Linked DNA regions of Homo sapiens: region 2 is reported to be linked to region 1. The links are microRNA targets in miRTarBase. Many come from high-throughput screens and were not tested one by one. Region 1 holds a microRNA gene; the other region holds the end of a gene's coding sequence.
What was found. The annotated mature microRNA hsa-miR-6765-3p reads UCACCUGGCUGGCCCGCCCAG and lies in region 1 at 1,685-1,705, shown strand. An mRNA with a match to its seed (bases 2 to 7 or 8) in the 3' UTR can be bound and repressed. Matches are read on the target gene's strand: a 7mer-m8 pairs with bases 2 to 8, a 7mer-A1 pairs with bases 2 to 7 and ends in A, and an 8mer does both.

Region 1 (3,512 bases):
GCCGGGAATGCCCGTGACAGTGGGGCTGGCCGGCAGGGCTGCAACCCCTGCCTGGCTGGGGCTGCTCCAGTTCAAAGGCCTGAGGCCGCCCGCCGGCCCTGGGTGTGGCGTGGGTGACTGTGCCTGGCTCCCCTGCCACCCTTTCAGGCACCACAGCTCACTGGGTCTTGCGCCCCTCCTCCTTCCCCCAGGTGCAGCTACGGCTGGCAAGGGAGGTTCTGCGATGAGTGTGTCCCCTACCCCGGCTGCGTGCATGGCAGTTGTGTGGAGCCCTGGCAGTGCAACTGTGAGACCAACTGGGGCGGCCTGCTCTGTGACAAAGGTAGTGGTAGGGGGCGGCAGGCCTAATGCTCTGCCATCGAAGTGTGGGTTGTGGGGGAGCGGGGGGCCGGCTTTTCCCCTGAGCATCCCACCCCTGCCCCCAGACCTGAACTACTGTGGCAGCCACCACCCCTGCACCAACGGAGGCACGTGCATCAACGCCGAGCCTGACCAGTACCGCTGCACCTGCCCTGACGGCTACTCGGGCAGGAACTGTGAGAAGGGTACGTGGGGGGCTGGCCACCCAAATTCTGGCCAGGCAGGGACTGGTTCCCTGGGGAGCCGGTCAGGCCCCATCCCTCTGGCGTCCTGTGTGGTGGGCCCCTGACCCCCAGCTTGGGAACCTGTGGGCTTGGGGAGGAGTGCTTGTGGAAAGCTGGGGGCCTGGCTGCCAGCTCTGCCCCCTCCCCGCGGTTCTACAGCTGAGCACGCCTGCACCTCCAACCCGTGTGCCAACGGGGGCTCTTGCCATGAGGTGCCGTCCGGCTTCGAATGCCACTGCCCATCGGGCTGGAGCGGGCCCACCTGTGCCCTTGGTGAGTGTCTGCACGTGAGTAGGGGACTCCTGCCTAGTATCAGTGGGGGTCTGGGAGTGGGGCAACTCGCTGGGGATGGGGTGCAGTGGTCAAGTCCACACGTGTGGCTGCGGCTGGCTTGGCGAGGACAAATGGCAGGAAGACCCAGGCTTGCAGCGCCACCTGCCCATGGGGACCTTATTCCCACGGCTCACACTGCCAGGGCCCCACCTTTCTCCACCCTCTGCAGACATCGATGAGTGTGCTTCGAACCCGTGTGCGGCCGGTGGCACCTGTGTGGACCAGGTGGACGGCTTTGAGTGCATCTGCCCCGAGCAGTGGGTGGGGGCCACCTGCCAGCTGGGTAAGGGCTCCGAGCGAGTGCATGGGAACGTGGGCCGCGCATGCGGGCTGCGGGGGCTGCTGGGGCTGCGGGGGCTGCTGGGGCTGCTGGGGCTGCTGGGCTGCGGGTGCCAGGTGCCCGTGCTGCAGGGGGCAGGCAGGGCCCGAGCCCCACGGCTCCCACCTTGTCTCTTTCACAGACGCCAATGAGTGTGAAGGGAAGCCATGCCTTAACGCTTTTTCTTGCAAAAACCTGATTGGCGGCTATTACTGTGATTGCATCCCGGGCTGGAAGGGCATCAACTGCCATATCAGTCAGTATGGGGGGTGGGCGCCGGCGGGTGGGCCGAGGCACATGGGACCCCGCCTCTGACCCTGCTCCTCTGCCCCCAGACGTCAACGACTGTCGCGGGCAGTGTCAGCATGGGGGCACCTGCAAGGTGAGGCGGGGCCAGGAGGGTGTGTGGCGTGGGTGCTGCGGGGCCGTCAGGGTGCCTGCGGGACGCTCACCTGGCTGGCCCGCCCAGGACCTGGTGAACGGGTACCAGTGTGTGTGCCCACGGGGCTTCGGAGGCCGGCATTGCGAGCTGGAACGAGACGAGTGTGCCAGCAGCCCCTGCCACAGCGGCGGCCTCTGCGAGGACCTGGCCGACGGCTTCCACTGCCACTGCCCCCAGGGCTTCTCCGGGCCTCTCTGTGAGGTGAGGTCTGCCTGGTCACCCTGCCCCACCTGCTGCTCTGGGAGCTGTAGGGCAGGCCTCGTCCCCTGACCATGGGGCCTGAGTGACCCAGGGGTGCTGCAGGGGAAGTTGTCCCCAAGGCGTCCCAGGCTCAGCTCTCCACTGGGTGCCAGGTGGGCAGGCGGGGCTGTCACAGGTCACCAGGCTTGGCCCCCTGTGGCCATTGCTTGTTGTGATGGGTTTCCTGGTGGCCTGGGCTAGGAGCCCCCGGGCTGCTGGCTGCCCAGGCCTATCTGTCCATCTGTGCACTCCCTCGGGACTGGAGGGCAGGGGGCTCTGGTGGGCAGAGCACATGGGGTAGGGTGGGTGCCTGATGGTGGAGAGGTATACACCTGTCATAGGTGAGTCCTGGGTCGGAGTGGGCATCTCTCTCAGGGCTGATGCTCTCGCCTCCCTCTGACCATCTGTTGGTACTGGACCCCCTCCCCCAACCTCCCCTTCCCCCCTGCCTCCAAAGTAACCTGCCTTCCCCCTTCCCCACCACCCCTACCACCCCCTTCCCCACCTCCCCCTTCCCCACCTCCCCCAACCCTGCCTCCCCCCACCCACCTCACTATCACCCCTCCCCTACCTCCCCCAACCCTGCCTCCCCCCACCCACCTCCCTACCACCCCCTTCCCCACCTCCCCCAACCCTGCCTCCCCCCACCCACCTCCCTACCACCCCCTTCCCCACCTCCCCCAACCCTGCCTCCCCATTACCTGCCTCCCTACCACCCCCTCCCCTTACTTCCCCTTTTTCCCTGCCTCCCCCCACCCACCTCCCTACCACCCTCGGCCGCCCACGATCCTGCCCTGGCCTTGGTGCAGAGGATGGGCCTCCTGTCCAGAGGGCTTCTTGGGGCCCAGGGCAGGGGTCTGACCTCAGGACCTGCAAGCATGGCAGTGGCTGGCCCTGGAAAAGACCCACAGTCTTGGCTCTGAGGGTGGCCAGGCAGTGTGTGAGGGGCTCAGGAGCTGTCCTTCCTGCCAGCAGCAGGGGCCAAGGCCACACTCCTCCCGAGGGACAGTGAGGAAGCTGGGCTGCAGTGGAGGTGGGGGTGGGGGCCCACAGGTATCTGCGTTCAGCTAAGGCCTGGGCAGTCTCAGGTGGGCAGGGGTCTTGGGCTCTGGCTGGCACTGTTAGGCCCAGGGCGGAGGGGCCTGGGGGTCCCCAGGGATCTACCTTCGTATGGACAGAGGCCTGGCCTGTGTTCCCGGCCTGGGCCTGGGCCTAGGCTCTCACAGGCACCCCCCACCCTGCAGGTGGATGTCGACCTTTGTGAGCCAAGCCCCTGCCGGAACGGCGCTCGCTGCTATAACCTGGAGGGTGACTATTACTGCGCCTGCCCTGATGACTTTGGTGGCAAGAACTGCTCCGTGCCCCGCGAGCCGTGCCCTGGCGGGGCCTGCAGAGGTGCTGGGTGCGGCATGGGGTGGTGGGGGAGGTGGTGGGGCAGGGGCGGGCCTGACTCCTGACTGTACTGCCTGCCATAGTGATCGATGGCTGCGGGTCAGACGCGGGGCCTGGGATGCCTGGCACAGCAGCCTCCGGCGTGTGTGGCCCCCATGGACGCTGCGTCAGCCAGCCAGGGGGCAACTTTTCCTGCATCTGT
Region 2 (3,000 bases), not on the chromosome of region 1:
CACAACATCGTGCTGTGGTGAAGATTCAATAAAATGATGTGTACAATGCTGGATGCAGGAGTTTGATGAATATTCACGGAGTGAGTGAATGAATGAATGAATAAAGATTCAGCTTATAGAGGGAGAAAGACCCCTAGGTTTTGCCAGTCAGATTTTTGTTTGTTTGTTTATTTGTTTTGAGACGGAGTCGGACTCTCCCTCTGTCGCCCAGGCTGGAGTGCAGTGGCACGGTCTCGGCTCACTGCAACCTCTGCTTCCCGGGTTCAAGCAATTCTCCTGACTCAGCCTCCCGATAGCTGGGACTATAGGCGCATGCCACCATGCCCAGCTAATTTTTTGTATTTTTAGTAGAGATGGGGTTTCACCGTGTTAGCCAGGCTGGTCTCGATCTCCTGACCTCGTGATCCGCCCACCTATGGCCTCCCAAAGTGCTGGGATTATCAGCATGAGCCACTGCGCCCGGCCTTGCCAGTCATTTTTAAGATACAAGAGGTTGTCCTGGTGTGGTGGCTCACACCTGTAATCTCAGCAGTTTGGGAGGCTGGGGTGGGAGGATCGCTTGAGTCCACGAGTTCAAGGCCAGCCTGGGCAATATAGGGAGACCCCATCTCTATAAAAAATAAGAAATTAGCCAGACATGGGATATGGTAGTGCAAGGTCAGGGTCTCAAGACTATCCTGGCTAACACGGTGAAACCCTGTCTCTACTAAAAATACAAAAAATTAGCCAGGCATGGTGGCGGGCGCCTGTAGTCCCAGCTATTCAGAGGCTGAGGCAGGAGAATAGCATGAACCCGGGAGGCGGAGCTTGCAGTGAGCCGAGATTGCGCCACTGCACTCCAGGCCGGGCAACAGAGTGAGACTCCATCTAAAAAAAAAAAAAAAAAAAAAAAGGTGGGTGTGGTGGCTCACGCCTGTAACCCCAGCACTTTGGGAGGACAAGACGGGCAGATCTTTTGAGGCCAGGAGCTTGAGACCAGCCTGGGCAACATGACAAATACCCATCTCTACTAAAAATACAAAAGTTAGCCAGGTGTGGTAGGGTACACCTATGATCCCAGCTGCTCGGGAGGCTGAGGCACGAGAATGGCTTGAGCTCAGGAGGCAGAGGCTGCAGTGAGCTGAGATCACACCACTGCACTTCAGTCTGGGCAACAGAGCAAGACTCTGTCACACACACACACACACACACACACACACACACACACACACACACACTTTGGGAGGCCACAGGTGGGCAGATCACAAGGTCAGGAGATCAAGACCAGCCTGGCTAACACAGTGAAACCCCATCAAAAAAAAAAAAAAAAAAAAAGAAGACTAAAGACTAAAAAAGGAATGAGGCCAGGCACCGTGGCTCACACCTGTAATCCCAGCACTTTGGGAGGCCAAGACAGCAGGATGGCTTGAGTCCAAGAGCTCAAGACCAGCCTGGGCAACATAGTGAGACCCCCCATCTCCATAATTCTGTTTTTTTTTTAAAAAGAAATGACAATTTGTAGAGCAATGAACACAATACCATTTATATATGATACACAAGACAAACATATTTGAAAGGTACATCCACAAGTATGCAAACATTCAAAGTTCTGGAAAGACACACATTAAGCCATGACAACCACAGAAGGGCTAAGGAAAATTTCCATGTTGAAACACTTCTGGGGCCAGGTGTGATAGCTCACGCCTGTGATCCCAGCACTTTGGGAGGCCAAGGTAGGCAGATTACCTGAGGTCAAGGAGTTCAAGACCAGCCTGGTCAACATGGTGAAACCTTGTCTCTACTAAAAATACAAAAATTAGCCTGGCGTGGTGGTGTGCGCCTGTAGTCCCAGCTACTCAAGAGGCTGAGGCAGGAGAATCACTTGAACCCGGGAGGTGGAGGTTGCAGTAAGCCGAGGTCGCACCACTGAACTCCAGCCTGGGTGACAGAGCGAGACTCTGTCTCAAAAAAAGAAAAAAATTAGCCGGGCATGCTGGCACATGCCTGTAATCCCAGCTACTCAGGAGGCTGAGGCAGGAGAAGCGCTTGAGCCCCGGAGATGGAGGTTGCAGTGAGCCAAGGTCGCACCACTGCACTCCAGCCTGGGCAATAGACAGAGGAGGGAAGGGTAGGGGAAGGGGAAGGGGAAGGGGAAGGGGAAAGGGAAAGGGAAAAGGAAAGGGAAGGGAAGGGAAGGGAAGAAAATAAACACTTCTAGATCACCTGAGTTTTTTTTACATTCCTTTGGTATTTGCAAAATAAATAAAAAACTACGAAACAAATATACTGAGATCCTCCTATCTCCATCCCAACCCGGATGCCCCAGCATCAAGGGTCGAACGGGACCTCCATTCAGCCCCATTCCAGGGCCTGAATCTCCAGGGAGTCCCTGCAGGGATCTCACTACCTCTCAGCTGTGTTGCTTCACTATTTGAGAATCAAGTTCTTTCCCAGGCGAATGAGAATCCCAATTGGCCTAAACTGTTTCCAGATCCCCCGAGGCTCCTGGGTCTCCACGCAGCTTGGGTGCGACTTCCCTGGATCCCGTCACTTGCCCACACAGAAGTCCTGGAAGATGATGTCCAGGATCTCCTCGGTACCCCCTCCACCTGTGAGCCGGGTCAGGTGACCCCGGGCCACCCGCAGCGCCTCTGCCGCCAGGGCCAGGTCTTTTGACTGCTTGTAGTGGCCGAGGGCATCCAGGCAACCCTGGAGGTGGTGCTGGTGCCTTGCTCGGGTCAGCAGCGGGGGATCTGTGGACGGGTCCCCACACCTGGAAGAGACAAGAGACATGGTCTCTCCCGACCTTTTACAACCATCCCTTGAAGGGGAAATGGTTGTACCCATTTTGTAGGTTCAGAAATTGAAGTTGAGGGACCCACACTTAAACTGTGGGTCAGGGGAGGCTGGGAGTGGGAGGGGGCTCACACTGCAGCTAGCTCCTTCCTCAGCGCCTCCAGGAGGCCGTCCAGCCCCTCTCCCGTCAGACAGGACAGCAGCAGGTGCGGGGGCAGGTCAGGA

Region 2: miRTarBase lists GTPBP3 as a target of hsa-miR-6765-3p. Seed matches in the 3' UTR shown: 7mer-A1 at 2,199-2,205.

Annotation. Positions count from the first base shown.
Region 1 is chr14:105,148,971-105,152,482 of GRCh38, reverse strand. MIR6765 (microRNA 6765) reads left to right here and starts at 1,619; the gene lies at 1,619-1,705. JAG2 (jagged canonical Notch ligand 2) reads left to right here. Exons shown (of 26, transcript NM_002226.5): 6 at 192-322; 7 at 426-545; 8 at 744-857; 9 at 1,087-1,200; 10 at 1,379-1,492; 11 at 1,572-1,618; 12 at 1,706-1,879; 13 at 3,163-3,313; 14 at 3,394-3,512.
Region 2 is chr19:17,341,230-17,344,229 of GRCh38, reverse strand. GTPBP3 (GTP binding protein 3, mitochondrial) reads right to left here. Exons shown (of 9, transcript NM_032620.4): 8 at 2,908-3,000; 9 at 1,499-2,752. The coding sequence ends at 2,527. Among named protein-coding and RNA genes, the nearest start is that of GTPBP3, 5.2 kb to the right of the region's middle.